Linked DNA regions of Homo sapiens: region 2 is linked to region 1. A link means that fine-mapping ties the variant in region 1 to the expression of a gene that starts in the linked region. Tissue or cell type: monocytes after interferon gamma. Region 1 holds a variant in brackets; the other region holds the start of a gene. All regions are shown on one strand. Distances are between the middles of the regions.

Evidence for each region. PIP is the estimated chance that this variant, and not a neighbour inherited with it, causes the effect.
Region 2: MRPL42 starts here. The variant in region 1 is fine-mapped to the expression of MRPL42 in monocytes after interferon gamma (Fairfax 2014, PIP 0.95).

The regions. Positions count from the first base shown.
Region 1 is chr12:93,505,082-93,513,188 of GRCh38, reverse strand. MRPL42 (mitochondrial ribosomal protein L42) reads right to left here. Exons shown (of 6, transcript NM_014050.4): 6 at 1-8,107. It also overlaps the pseudogene RN7SL737P. Among named protein-coding and RNA genes, the nearest start is that of MRPL42, 42 kb to the right of the region's middle. The variant TC/C (reference allele first, on the strand shown) is at 3,416.
Region 2 is chr12:93,463,755-93,471,861 of GRCh38, reverse strand. It overlaps MRPL42 (mitochondrial ribosomal protein L42), which reads right to left and starts at 4,348. Exons shown (of 6, transcript NM_014050.4): 1 at 4,308-4,348; 2 at 2,507-2,670. The coding sequence starts at 2,576. RefSeq lists enhancers at 4,127-4,396, 4,457-4,516.

The DNA of each region.
Region 1 (8,107 bases):
AAAAATTCTAAATGTCACAAATGAGCTGGTTTCTTTCTCGTTAAAATATGTAATCCAGGGTAGATTGACAATACTACTACTTTCATGGATTGATGTATATCTAAACTGTTTCCATGGTTTTTAAAAAATATTATTCATAAGATGAAACCAGATTTACAAAGGGATAATGGTCGGAATGGGAAAAAAAAGTTTTTAAACTAATTTCAGCATACTCAGAATATTCACTTTTAACTTTTATCCAAAATGAAGCAAGTGGTGTGGTATTTTCAAAATTCATTTTTAATCCTTCATTAGTTGCCAGTTAGAACAATGTATCATATAAGCTTACAATTAAATTTAAATCCTCTTTTGATGACATAAATGGATTCCAGATCTATGAATTTGCCGTATGTAGACATTCTTTTGTTGGAAAATAAAACTTAAAGCATTCTATCAAATTCACAATAGTTTGATTACTTCTTACAGATGTGCAATATCAAGACAATCACCAACTTCAATGACAATTGTTAAATTATGGAACATGTAATAACAATCTGTAGCAACTCTGGTCTTTCAAGCTTCTACCTTTTGCTTTTGCTCTTTGATTTTATCTGCCATTAAAAAACAAGTTGCATTCCTGCCTTGTATGAAAGAATTCTGAAGCTATCAGAACTGTCTTCAGATAATTGAAGATAGTAACTTCAGGTAACTCTAGCTGGCCAATTTATATCTTTATTTCATTTTATTATTTTATTTTGAGGCAGAGTTTCACTCTTTTTATCCAGGCTGGTGTGCAGTGGCACAATCTTGGCTCACTGCAACCTCTGCTTCCTGGGTTCAAGCGATTCTCCTGCCTTAGCCTCCCGAGTAGCAAGGAATACAGGTGTGTGCCACCACGCCCAGCTAATTTTTGTATTTTTAGTAGAGATGGGGTTTCACCATGTTGGCCAGGCTGGTCTCGAACCTCTGACCTCAGGTGATCCGCCTGCCTCGGCCTCCCAAAGTGCTGGGATTACAGGCATGAGCCACCGCACCCAGCCCAATGTATATCTTTATAAAGCTGGGACCAAACTGGCTTCTTGCAGCAATAATTAAATGTTCAAATATGCTCAACAGAACTTTCCCTCTAGATAATCATCATATCTCTAAATGTAATCACAGTTGTTTGTTTTCCAAACTATTACATAAAGAGAACAATCTCAAACTTATTGCATTAGCCTTTACACAAGTTATGTTCTTTACTAAGTCACTGAACACACTGTACAGTTCAGTTGATATGCTTTTTCTACCAAGACTTTTTCAAATAAAAAGATATAGTAGGTTGATTTACATTCTAGGGCAAGCTCCTTAATTTAGGTAATTATTCCGGAATGTTCTCTTACCACTGCTGCTATCCATCCAATTGGATTCCTACAAAGCTTCAAACCACATTAATTAACAAAGTAATTTATTCCACACTTTACTGTTGTTTAGAGTTAGCTGTTTGTTGGCAATGAAGTGGAAAAAAGAGAATCTTCCTTCATATTACTATCATATTCAAATAGCATATAAACTAATTGCCATATTAGTAATATCTATATATTAATGGTACATCAAACCAATTGCAAGAAAAGGTAATTTATTAGCTTTCTTTGTTCTATGGGTTGATCTTCCTGGATATTTCAAATTGTTGTGTGTTGGTAACTGGTAATTGAAGTACTTTCTTTGCCACACAGTCTCCCAACATTTCTAAGAATCTTTGATGCTGATTATTATTAAGACAATTATTGTCTATATATAAGATTATTGTCTTAATTGCATTTTTTAGTTTTAGCAATCTAAAGTTGCTTAAAGATGTCTAAAAAGCATTAACGTTTATTTGTGAAATAATGAATATCTGTGCTTTCAGTTTTTTAATTACTTAGGTTTTTCTTTCAAAGAGATCTTCTGGTTTTGGATTTATCTCTTTATGTTCTGTATTTAAATGTTGATTTAGTTTTGATTATTTTATTGCTTCATTTGCCAGAACTTCTCAGCAAATAACATGTTATGGTTTTCCCATGTCTTCATTTATGGCTAAAAAACTGAACTCAGTATATGAAGAATTATATTTATGAGTAAAACTAGAACAATCTATTGGTTTTCATTTATTCAGAATCGCTTTTATTGTCACCATTAGGTTTACTAATACTGTTGCATTCAGAAAAGGTAAGTCTTTTCTTGATAAAAAAAGCCAGTGAAGTTATTTTGCCATCCATAACATGGTGTTAAAGATAAATGAAACAAATTACCCCAAACCTTCACATCGATTGCATTCCCTGCCTGAAACTTTCTCTCCTTTCTCTTTAAACAGATCTAATCTTAACACTGGTCCCCCATAAAAATATTTCCAGTGCATATATCTGACAAAAGATTTATCCAAAATATTTAAAGAAATATTATAACTTCAATCATAAGAAGAAAAAATAATGAGTAAATAGATGTTCCATATCACATATTATCAGGGAAATGCAAATTAAAATAAATGTGATGTGGATGAGCTGTCTGAGCAGAGAAAAACACAAAACAAGTGAGACACCACTACACACCTTTTAGAATGGCCAAAATTCAGAACACTAACACCAAGTGCTGACAGGGATGTTGAGCAATAGGAACCCTTATTCACTGCTGGTGGGAATGCAAAATGGTACAGCCTCTCTGTAGGACAGTTTGGTGGTTTTTTACAAAACGAAACATTCTCTTAGCATTCAATCCAACAATTGTGCTCTTTGGTATTTACCCAAAGGAGTTGAAAGCTTAAATGGACACAAAAACCTACACATGGATATCTATAGCAATTTTATTCATAATTGCCAAAACTTGGAAGCAATCAACCAAGATGTCCTTCAGCAGGTGAATGGATAAACTGTTGTACACCCAGACAATGGAGTATTACTCGATGCTAAAAAGAAATGAGCTATCAAACTGTGAAAAGACATAGAGGAAACAAATGCATATTATCCAGTGAAAGAAACCAATGTGAAAAGGCTATATATACTTTATGATTCCAACTATATGGCGTTCTGAAAAAGGAAAAACTTACGGAGACAGTGAAAAGACCAGTGGTAGCCGGGGGTCAGTGGGGAGGACACGACGAAGAGGCAGAGCCAAGGGTTTTTAGGACAGTGTAGACTCTGCATGACTATAAAGATGGATACATGTCATTGTACCTTTGTTCAAACCCATAGATTGTACAGCACCAAGAGTGAACCCTAATGGAAACAATAGGCTTTGGGTGATAATGATGTGTCAGTGTAGGTTTATCAATTGTAACCAATGTGCCACTCTGCTGGGGGATGGTGATGAGGGAGGCATGGGGGAGGGGAGCACTGAGGATATATAAGTTATTTCTGTACCCTCCTCTCAATTTTGCTCAGAACCTAAAACTACTTTTAAAAACTAAAGTTTTTTTTTTTTT[TC/C]AGGAGATGAGGATCTCACTATGTTGCCCAGGCTGCAGTGCAGTGGCTATTCACAGGTGTGATCCCACTACTGATCAGCACAGGAGTTTTGACCTGCTCCACTTCTGACGCTCCTTAGGCAACTCTGGGTCCCAGTGACCCAGGAGGTCACTACATTTATGCTGAACTTAGTGCAAACACCTGATTGACATAGCTCACTACAACCCAGAACTTCTGGACTCAAGTGATCCTCCTGTCTTAGCCTCCTGAGTAGCTAGGTCTACAGGCATGTGCCACTGTGCCTGGCAAAAAGTCTTTTTTAAGTGCTAAGAAAAAAAAAAGAGCAAATGATTTGAACAGATATTTCACCAAAGATATGAGTGCCCAACAAGTACCTGAATCAAAACTTAATGTTATTGATCATCAGAGAAATGCAAATTAAAACCATCAAATTATTACTATATATCCATTAGAATGGCTAAAACTAAAAATATTATCAAATGAGGGCAAGAATATAGCAATTGGAACTTTCATTCATGGTGGTGAGAATATAAAATGGTACAACCACTTTGCAAAAAGCGTTTTGGCAGTTTTTTTTTTTTTTTTGAGACGGAATCTCGTTTTATCACCCAGACTGGAGTGCAGTGGTGTGATCTTGGCCCACTGCAACCTCTGCCTCCTGGGTTCAAGGGATTCTCCTGCCTCAGCCTCCTGAGTAGCTAGGATTACAGATGCCTGCCACCACACCCAGCTAATTTTTGCATTTTTAGTAGAGACGGGGTTTCACCATGTTAGCTAGGCTGGTCTCAAACTCCTGACCTCAAGTGATCCGCCCACCTCCGCCTCCTAAAGTGCTGGGATTACAGGTGTGAACTACCACGCCCAGCCCCCCAGCTCATTCTTAGCTAACTAGTGTGTGTGAAAAAGAGACAGTGTTAAAATATATATGGTTTAAACTGATAAGGAAATGATCAGTTATTGAGCTTATCCATGATTGCTAATTCAGGTAGAGATGGCTTATAAGTAAGTGTTCGGGGCTGCTTACGGGAAGAAAAAATGAAAGTTAGGGATTTCCTTTGGATGCTGGGAAACAAAACTCCAACTGGGTTCTGACAAACATACCATGTGCATTGTCCTGTGGAGACATGACAATGTAAACCCATAAACAAATCGATTACGTTTTGGTGACAACTATTGTGAAGAGAATGGCCATAGTATTTGCTGCTTCTCCTTTTAATAGGTAGCATCTCTCCTCTTACTCCCTTGAATCTGAGATAGCCTTATGAAGTGATATTGTGCCAGTTCTGAGACTAGGCCTCAAGAAGCCTCGAAGCTTCCAATCTTGCACTTTTTTGTTTGTTTTGATACAGGTGCTTGTTCTGTTGCCCAGCCTAGAGTGCAGTGGCACAATCATGGCTCACTACAGCCTCAATCTCATGGGCTCAAGCAATCCTCCCATCTCAGCCTCCCAAATAGCTGGGACTACAGGCATGCAGCACCACCCCACCCTCCCCACCCCCAGCTAATTTTTTAAAATTTTTTTGTAGAAGACCAGGCGTGGTGGCTCACACCTGTAATCCCAGCACTTTGGGAGGCTGAGGCAGGCAGATCACCTGAGGTGGGGAATTCAAGACCAGCCTGACCAACACGGAGAAACCCATCTCTACTAAAAATACAAAATTAGCTGGGCGTGGTGGCTCATGCCTGTAATCTCAGCTACTCAGGAGACTGAGGCAGGAGAATCGCTTGAACCCAAGAGGCAAAGGTTCTGGTGGGCTGAGATTGCGCCATTGCACTCCAGCCTGGGCAACAAGGGCGAAACTCCATCTCAAAAAATTTTTTTTTTTACAGATGGGCTCTCACTATGTTGCCCAGGCTGGTCTTGAACTCCTGGGCTCAAGAAATCCCCCAACCTTGGCCTCCCAAAGTGCTGGGATTACAGGTGTGAGTCATCATGCCCAGCCCCAATCTCATACTCTTGAAATCCTAAAGCCATGTGAAGAATCCAGGCCTAGCTTGCTGGATGATGAGAGACACAGTCCCCCTAATGCCCCAGGTGACAGTCACTCAATACCAGACATATGAGTGACACCATCTAGGACTAGCCAGCCTCAACAACCCAACTAGTGACCTCAGCTGCATGGGCAAGTCCAGCCAAGATAAGCTGAGCTGGATCCAGACTATAAGAATTACCTGGAAGAACGCAAACTAATGAAAGATTGTTGTTTTAAGCCAATGAGCTTTGGGGTGATTTGTTAATTGGCAATAGATAACTGATATTCAAGGATTCATCCAAAGTTCCCTTAAAAGATAGAACCCATTAAGTCATTTTAAACACTTATAAGCAAGTTATTAAATCCTTAAAAGAAACTGAAAGTTTCTAAGGTATACTGGGTTGGAAAAAGGAAAAGAAAAAGAAACTAAAAGTGAAGGCTGAAACTGACAAGTAAGGAGTTATTTCTCCCTGCAAATGTAATCAGAAAATAAGGTGGAGTGTCTCTGAATGCATAACTGGAACAAGGAAACAATCTAATGGTTTTAGTAGTAAATATATGATTTCAGGGGCACATCCAGTGGAATGATGGAGTCAGTGCACAACAACTTGTAAGACCCAGTCATGGAAACTGGCAAACATTACAAGTTAGAACCAGTTGTTAAATCTTCATTAGTACATCACTGGACACATCTATTGCTAAAGGCACATTTCATCAGTATGTATATGCATAAATATACATATAAGATGTCCTTAATGTTTAAAAAAGACATTGGTTGGTTCTGCCACAATCTGTGATCTTGGGCAAGTCAATTAGTGTCTTTGGATCTGTTTCCAAATCAGTCCCCAAAAATCATCTTTAAGATGTCTTTCAGCTTTACGATTCTATCTTCTATGCTCTTATGGTAATTACACCTGGATGCAGCAATTGAAAAGTCCAATGGGATCAATCCAAATTGCCACACTTAACCATGTTACTGACTACATATATTACTCATCAAGACAATTATTCAAGTAAGTGGCATAATAGTAATCCAATGTACTTTGCATTATGAGTGAAGAAGAGACTAATTTTGACTAGAGGGGAAAGAAGGGATGGTCATAGCAAGATACTTTGTCAATCAGGAATGAGGGCTATCTTTGAACCCACAGTGGCTTGAACTCTATAGGTGCTTAATAAAATTTGCCGAAAAGATTACATGCTTAGAGACAACATTATAAAGAAAAGACATTCTTGGCCGGGCGTGGTGGCTCATGCCTGTAATCCCAGCACTTCAGGAGGCGAAAGCAGGTGGATCACCTGAGGTCAGGAGTTTGAGACCAGCCTGACCAACATGGAGAAACCCCATCTCTACTAAATACAAAAAATTAGCCGGACATGGTGTTGCATGCCTATAGTCCCAGCTACTTGGGAAGCTGAGGCAGGAGAATCGCTTGAACCCGGGAGGTGGAGGTTGCAGTGAGCTGAGAATGTGCCACTACACTCCAGCCAAGGCAACAAGAGCAAGACTCTGTCCCAAAAAAAAAAAAAAAAAAAAAAGAGACATTCTTGCTGAATTGAAGACTCAGAAGAGGCTGGGCACAGTGGCTCACCCTTGTAATCCCAGTATTTTGGGGGGCCAAGGTGGGCAGATCACCTGAGGTCAGGAGTTCAAGACCAGCCTGGCCAACGTGGTGAAACCCCATCTCTACTGAAAATACAAAAAATCAGCCAGGCATGCTGGTGCACGCTCATAATCCCAGCTACTCGGGAGGCTGAGGCAGGAGAATTGCTTGAGCCTATGAGGCGGAGGTTGCAGTGGGCTGAGATCATGCCACTGGCCACTGTACTGCACTCCAGCCTGGGTGACAAAAGTGAAACTCCATCTCAAAAAAAAAAAAAAAAAAAAGACTCAGAAGTAATCATAAGGTTCTACTTGCTATTCTCACATGTAATTGTGAGACTCTGCCTCCATTTCTCCATCTAAAAACAGGAGCTCATTTACAAGCAACATGACAAGAATTCAAGCAGTCATGGCTGTGAAGCATTTCTGCAGAAGGATATGCTATGTAAGTATGAGGTTGTTACTAAATCAAAATGAATGCCTTTGTGCAAAACTAGAAAGCACATTACATATTGTTCCTGAGTATTCCTTCCCAGTGCATTCAAAATATTCTCACATTCACAAGGTTAAACAGCACATTAAAAAATAGTAGGAGGCTGATGGCTGAGCTCAATTGGGAGTATCTTTCTTTGGTGTTAGAATGTTTGAAAATTATTTTGGGAAGACTATGAGCAAGTTATTTTGAACTTCTGGGGAAAAAAAAAAATCTGAAGAAGCATTCCCTTTGCCTAAAAGCAAAGGAGACATTTATTTATGCCTTTAGCAAATAAAATAGTTTGCTTACTACCAGTGTTTGTGGGCTGATATTCAACTCATCTTCTGGAAATTTTAAAAATACACATTGAAACTGAAAAAGTATTCTTTGAGTAAGGGTTTACCTGAAGTGCCCAGAACCATCCAAAATGATGGCACATTATATCTTTTTTTCTTAAAAATTTTTGGAATCTAATTGAAGATGCCTCTTAGAATATGTGGAAACCACACGTGCTATCTTGCATATCACTATCATTTCAGTTCTAATGTTATTAGGTGTTTAGCTACAGGCAAGTAGAATTAGGGCATGATGTGACAGACTGTAATGAGTTGCTGAGAAACTACATACTCTATCCCCAGGA
Region 2 (8,107 bases), 41 kb after region 1:
AGAGTAAGGGTCTTTCTCCCAATTCTCAACAACAAAAATGCTCCTAGATAATCAAAAGCTGATTGCAGTTTTGTTGTGACTTATTTTGGTTTATATCCAAAGTCTCTTAAGCAATGTCCTGTTCTATTTACTGAATTCTAAGTTGATTTTACTTTGAATATAATGTAATAAATGTTTCTATGTTTAGGGCCCTAAAAAATGGGAGAGTGGGGCAAGCAAGGAAGCAGGGATGGAAAGCTTCCTATAAGAGCAGGATTTGGTGGCCAGGTGCGGTGGCTCATGCCTATAATCCCAGCACTCTCGGAGGCTGAGGTGGGCAGATCACTTGAGGTCAGGAGTTTGAGACCAGTTTTGGCCAACATGGTGAAACCCCTCCCCTGCTAAAAATACAAAAATTAGGCCAGGCGCAATGGCTCACACCTGTAATCTCAGCACTTCGGGAGGCCAAGGCAGGAGGATCATTTAAGGTTGGGAGTTCGAGACCAGCCTGGCCAACATGGTGAAACTTTACCTCTACTAAAAATACAAATATTAACCAGGCCTGGTGGTAGGTGCCTATAATCCCAGCTACTCGGGAGGCTGAGGCAGGAGAATCACTTGAACCTGGGAGGCAGAAGTTGCAGTGTGCCAAGATCATGCCTCTGCACTCCAGCCTGGGAGCAAGATCCAGTCTCAAAAAATAAAATAAAATAAAATAGAGTAGGATCTGGCAAACTTTTGAGCATTCTATTCAACAAAGGTGTTTACTGAGTAAAATATTTTCCTCGTCTCAAGCATAACAAATTGCCTATTTATTACTTTACTTATACTCCATTCTTCAAATAGCTCTTTTCTCCCTAATTCAATAAGCAAACTTTCAATTACAAATGGTGGTAAATAGGAAATAAGAAAGAAGAGACAAAGGTCAAGGTCAAGCAGAGTTGTATTTAAAAAGTCAGCTGCACTTGCATGTTTATCAGAGCACTATTCACAATAGCGAAGACATGGAAACAAGCCCATCAATGGTGGACTGGAAGAATATGTGGTGTATATGCATACCATGGATTATTACACAGACATTAAAACAAATAAAATCATGTCCTTTACAGCAACACAGATGCAGCTGGAGGCCATTATCCTAAGTGAATTAATGCAAAAACAGCCAAATACTACATGTTCTAACTTACAAGTAGGAGGTAAACATTGGGTACATATGGACACAAAGATGGGAACAATAAACACTGGGGACTCAAAACAGAATGGAGGGATGGAGGGAAGAGTTGAAAAACTACCTATTGGGTACTATGTTCACTATTTGGGTGACGGGTTCAGTTGAAGCCCAAACCTCAGTATATGTAATACATCCACGTAACAAACCTGCACATGTACGCCCGAATCTAAAATAAAAAATAAAAATAAAAAGTTGGCTCACATAGTTTAATATAAAAAGGCAAACCTACTGTTGCCTTCTATACATGTCTACTTTAGAAATGGAAAGCTTCCTATAAGAGCTGTTTATAAGAGCTATAAACTCTGTTTACAGACAGGAAAAGGAAAAAGAAAGCACAGTTGGCTGAGAAAAAAGACTTTAATACTCTATTTACTTATTTGGGTCCATGCTTTGACTGTCAAACATGTATTAACAAGCTTTCGAGAAAATACTAACTATATACAGTTCTTTAGAAAAGAAAGGCAGAAATTACATTTCATTTTTTTAAAAATGGCTAGGTACATAGAAAAAACACAATGACAATCCACCAAAATATTAACAATGATTATCTTTGGAAGATGGGACTGTGAATTTACCCTTTATTCGCACATTTTAAGAAATACTAAAAAAGTAATCACGCCACTGCACTCCAGCCTGGGCGACAGAGCCAGACTCCGTTAAAAAAAAAAAAAAGAGAGAAATACTAAAAAAGTAATACATGTAATCGAACAAGAGAAAGTTACCCTTGACCAGTCCCTTACTCCTGCCCTCAGCCAAATCCCAAGAGTGGGCTACACAGATAACCACTGTTTGGTCCAGACCTTTTACCTCTGCATTTATGCATATGCACACATGCATATGATGGATCATCTTTTAAACATACAAATAAGATCATATGATAGATATATATAGATGTGGTTCTGACATGCTTTTTTTGTTTCTATTTGGAGATCTTTCCATGTCAGTAACAGCTACATGACAGTCACAGTTCAGATGTACCATAATTTATCCATTCCCCTCCCCAACCCACATTTTTTTTTAGAGGTGGGGGTCTTGCTATGTTGCCCAGGCTGGTCTCAAACCCCTGGCCTCAAGCAATCCTCCCACCTCAGCCTCCCAAAGTGCTGGGATTACAGGCATGAGACACCACATCTGACCTATCCATTCCCCTTCTGACTGACATTTAGGTTTTCTCCCACTTTCCATTGCTGCAAACACTCCTGCAAATTACAGGCATATACAATAACTAAATGCTTTAAATTTTCTTAATTCTTAAAAGTTTAAAAGTTTTTAAACATTAAAAAAAATTTCACTTACTTTGGACTGGAAATAAATGTTTCAAGATAGTTCTCTTTGACATCACCCATTTTACTGCAGCTACAGCCATGGTGTTTCAAGATGCTTATCAAGTGGTATGAAAAAAGATGTTCTGAAGAGAAACTGCTTTTAGAATCTGCTTCTAAGCATACCAATTTCTACTCCTGCTGAAGAGATAAAGAAAAATCAGTGCTACCTATGGTAAATTTAAGTTATATTAAACACCACAAGAACAAGGTAAGAATCACTGCCTAGAAGTCAACTGAAGCAATGCTTTTAAACAACTTGGCAATTCCACATGATTGAACAACAGGACGAAGAGCGACATGGACAGAATATAAGATCAGAACCACTGGAACTATGTCCATTACTATTTATCTTAGATACAAACTTCTCTGCAGGACCCAGTGCAGCTCCTTCCACTTAATGAATACTCAGTAAATGTGTAATTACTCTTGAAACAGTCACTCACAAATGGTACACAGAGTATTCATTCTTTTAATGCTAGTGTGGCTGTGTACACCCTCCAAGGTTCCATACACAAGATACTACATCATTTACAGTACTATCCTGTTTCTGATTAAATGAAATAGTTGTCTGCCCTGAGCCATTAATAATAATAATAATAATAAAGAAATATCAAACAAGGCCTATCCTTAGCCTATTACTCAATTGGAGGAACTCATAAATGCCCTCAAGTCCCAGATAAAATTTCACCATCTTATATGTGTACAAAGTCTTTAACTTTCCAACGTACTTTCACCACCATTTCATTTTGCTCTCGTATTAATCATGTGAGGTATCTTTATTCTGATTCATGAAGAAACTAAAGTACAAAATTTAAACGTCTTGCTTCCAAGGACTTTAGAGTCAGTCACTGCCAAATTGGGAAACTTTAAACAAGTCATTAACTAAACGATCCTCAGTTTCTCCAATGACAAAATGGGGAAAACCACAATCTTCATGGCCTGTTGTGAATAAATGACAAATAACCATTGTTAAATCTTGTTTTTAATAGTCTTCAATGAGTATCCGTGCCCTTCCCCCCAATAGTGATAAAAGAGAATTAGGACACAGGCCCTCTTATTTGCTAGTCTAAACCACTCACACTGATACCTTGCACTGCCAGTACATTAACACCGTTAACCCTGAGCTCATAGGTGTGCTTTTTAGTTTACAACCCACTTTCATATACAATATGTGCTCTGACTTTCACAAGTGTGTGAAGCAGCATCTCCATTTCAGATTAAGAACAAAGGCTCAGAGAGGTCAATCGATTACTTGCTCAGTATATCGCTGCTTAATACATGCGTGGGACGTAAACCCATGACTTCTGACCACGAATAAAACATCTTGGGGGAAATTAGGTCCCCTCTGTCCGAAGCCCAGAGAAAAGCACGCCCTGCTGGGAGTCAGATTATTCACCCCAGGAAGATCATTTCAGAGATCAAGTCCCTCAGCCCGGAATTCAACCCCAAAACAAAAGCTACAGAGCCTCTGAGGGTCAGAGGTTTGAGGAACAGGCTACCAAGAGCACCAGAACTCTTCGACCTAAAGGAGTCCCTAGAGCCACAAGCTGCATCACCTCCCCACGGGCGTCCGCCAGGGAACAAAGGGGGCGCTATAAGAAACGCGCAGCCACATGCCGGCTCTTCTGCAGGAAGGACAAAGGCTGGGGATGCAGGCAACCTCGCCCTGCCGGGAACGACAGGCGGGAGACCTCTACAACTGCCGACCAACACTGTGGGACTGCCCAGTTTCGAGGAAGTCCTCGACAGGAGGAGTAGAGGGAAGCGGTTACCTTGACGGCTTCTCACCACGAACCCGCCATCTTGTTTCAATCCTGGTCCCACGAAACAGCGCTGCGCGCGCCGTCCCAGCCCGCGGGGCATTCTGGGAAATGTAGTCTCCGCGGGAAAGCGGCCCGGGTGCAGAGAGAAAGGGAGGATTGTTGCTATGGACTTTTACCTTTAGTTGGGGAAGCGTGGCCGCAGTGTTACTAAGGTGCCCAGAAAAACAAAATCACTGCCCCAAACACATACCCTTAGAAAGTAACAAGCTTTTTTTTTTTTTTTTTTTTGTGAGGCAGTCTCATTCTGTCACCCAGACTGGAGTGCAATGGCTCCCTCACGGCTCACTGCAGCCTCTACCTCCTGGGCCCAAGAGAGCCTCCCACCTCAGCCTCCTGAGTAGCTGGTACTACAGGCGCACACCACCACACCCAGCTAATTTTTTAATATTTTTGTAGAGACGAGGTCTCGGTATGTTGCCCAGGCTTGTCTCAAGCAATCCTCCTGCCTCGGCGTCCCAAAGTGCTGGAATTACAGGCATGAGCCACCATGCAAACCTATAAGTACTTTTTAAAAAAATTATGTTAATATTCAGAGAAATCGTAGATTGCTCTTTAGTAGATGAGTTAAAGTTTCCCAGGGGAAGAGACATTCCAGAGAAGCCCTGAAATGTGGAGGCTAGGATTTGGACGTTTGAAATCAGAACCTGAAGAGAACCTCCACTCTGAAAACCTGGCACTGTGCCCTCAGAACTGTGCTGGCTACCTATTATGGGAGGAAGTAAATATGCAGAATCTTGGACCTCGCTTTCCATCTTAGGAGGAAGGAAAGACCTCTGGGCCTTTGCACTCTCTGTTCCCATTGCCAGCAATGTGCTTCTCTGACCTCTTCTCATGACCTTACAGGTCTTTCTCAAATATCATCTTAGAAAGGACCACACCATTAAAATAGCCTCACCCACCCTTATTCCATGCCCCGCTTTATTTTCCTTCAGAATATTTACCATTACCTGACTTTATATTGATTATTTGTTTGCTCGTTGAATGTCTCTTTCTTTTTTTTTTTTTTTTTGAGACGGAGTCTTGCTCTATCGCCCAGGCCGGAGTGCAGTGGCATGATCTCAGCTCACTGCAACCTCCGCCTCTCAGCTTCAAGCGATTCTCCTGCCTCAGCTTCCTAATTAGCTGGGATTACAGGTGGCCACCACCACGCCCAGCTAATTTCTGTATTTTTAGTAGAGATGGGGTTTCGCCATGTTTGCCCGGCTGATCTCGAACTCCTTACCTCAGGTGATATGCCCACCTCGGCCTCTCAAAGGGCTGGATTACAGGCGTGAGCCACCACACCCAACCTCGTTTAATGTCTCTTATGCTGGATAATGTAAGCTCCTTGAAGACAGAGACATATGTCTATCTTGTTCTTCACTGTATGCAAACCCAGCATCTCAGACTGTGCTTGGTCTCATTATAGGTCTCCAGGAAGTGTTTGCTGAATGAATGAAAAGACTAGATAACGCTGCAAGTATCCAAGACAGTAGATGATTGGCTGGTAAAGCAGAAGCGGTCGCCTGGAAATTCCCTTCTCCCATGATTTGCAAAATTTTGCTTTTGTATATTTTTCTAAGAAATAATCTATAGCTTTTATTATGTATTCCAGGGAATTGATAAACCCCTCAACAAGTTAAGAACCATATTCCTGAAGTGACTAGTATTGAAAGTAAGTGAACACACATCACATAGTAAAGAAAACTAAATACGGGCTGTGTAGTGTGTCTCCTCATTTCCCACGGAATATCAGGAGGCTAATCTTTGCTCTTATAGAAGCCCACAGAGGGCCCATCTGTGTCCTTTCCAGTCGTGTCCATCCTCCAAAGCCACCCATGATGTCTTTCTGGACTGTGCAATAGGAAGGGACAGAGAGGAGAAACAGATTTGAATGAGCAGTCAACTGGACTGGTTGAACATTCCCTGCGTAAAGTGTAAGAAGAATGGATCAAAGATAATTCCAGAGGTCAAGTCTTGATGGCTGTGAGCAGAGTGGGACCAGTCCCCAACAGGGAGACTCACTTAGTGGGACCAAGGAAGGTCTCACAAAGCTGAGACCAGAAAAGAAACCAACATTTTTGGGGGAAGAGAGGGGAGAGACAGGTTTAGGCTGAGTGAGGGAACAACTTACACAAAGGTTTAATGTGGTGGAAATAGCTTACCATATACTGGAGTAGGGTGGATAGTGTGGATGAGAGCGGCAGGAGATGAGATTTGGAGCCAGGTCATGTTGGGCTTCATAAGCCTTGGAGGGGTTAACATGGAGTTAGGACACAGGACATATGTAGAGATTAAATAGAGTAGGTGGTGCTGTGTGCCTGTAGTCCTAGTTACCCTGGGAATGGGAGGCTGAAGTGGGAGGATTGCTTGAGCCCAGGAGGTCAAGGCGGTAGTAAGCTATGATCGTGCCGTGCACTCCAGCCTGGGTGACAGAGTGAGCCCTGTCTCTTGAGATTTTTACATGAAAGAAGTGACATAATTTGATTTCCATTTTTAAAAGGTTACTCTGGCTGCCCTGGGAGGAGTGGTTTGGAGAGTGGCAAGACCGCAGGCAAGTCTAGCAAGGAAGCTACTGCAGTACTGCAGTCAAGAAATCATGTGATGGAGGGTGGTGGCAGTGGAGATGGAGAGACAGGAAGAGTCCAGATGTATTTTGAAATTGGAAGTGATGACTTAACTTGCTGATGGATTGATTGAGAGGGAGGAAGATACTTCAGGTGATGCTTTGATGACTAGTTGACAGTGGTGCCCTTCATAAGACAAGGAAGACTGAAAGAGGAACAGGTTTGGGGAGTCTGATGATGGTGGAAATGCATACTTCCGTTTGGGAGTTGTTGAGTTTGAGATGGCTCTGAGACACTCCAGTGGAGATACAAAACAAGTCAGCAGCCTGGGCAATATAGTGAGTGAGGCCTTGTCTCTACAAAAAATAAACAGAATTAGTAAGGTTGATGATGCACACCTGTGATCCCAGCTACTAAGGAGGCTGAGGTAGGAGGATCGTTTGAGCCCTGGAGGTTGAGGCTGCAGTGAGCTATGGTCATGCCACTGCACTCCAGCCTGAGTAACAGAGTGAGAGCCCCATCTCCAAAAAAACAAAAAACAAAAGGCAGGTACTTGAAGAGGTGTGTTTGGAGAGTAGAGGTTGGACTAGGTATAGAAAAAAAAAGATAAAGGGCCTAGAAGCTGGCCCCAGGGAATTCGAAGGCTTAGAAATCAGATGGAGGAGGATAACCTTTAGCAAGGGCCTCCCAGGAGTGGCAGTGAGAAAGGTAGAAGGAAAACAAATACTGTGATGTAAGAGTAGTTAAGAGAGGCCATGTCACAAAGTGTTCCTAACTTAAGAGGTCAGTGCTAGCAACTTAAAAAGTATAATTTCCAAAAATACAAACTTGAAATACCAGCAAATAACTTATATTGGCCTACATAAAAGTGCTTTATTTTATTTTATTTATTTATTTTTTTAAGACGGAGTCTTGCTCTGTCACCCAGGCTGGAGTACAGTGATGTGATCTCGGCTCACTGCAACCTCCACCTCCTGGGTACGAGTGATTCTCCTGCCTCAGCCTCCTGAGTAGCTGGGATTACAGGTGCCCACCACAATGCGCAGCTAATTTTTGTATTTTTAGTAGAGACGGAGTTTCACCATGTTGGCCAGACTGGTCTCGATCTCCTGACCTCAAGTGATCCGCCCACCTCAAGTGATCCGCACACTTCACCCTCCCAAAGTGCTGGGATTATAGGCATGAGCCACTGTGCTCAGCTAC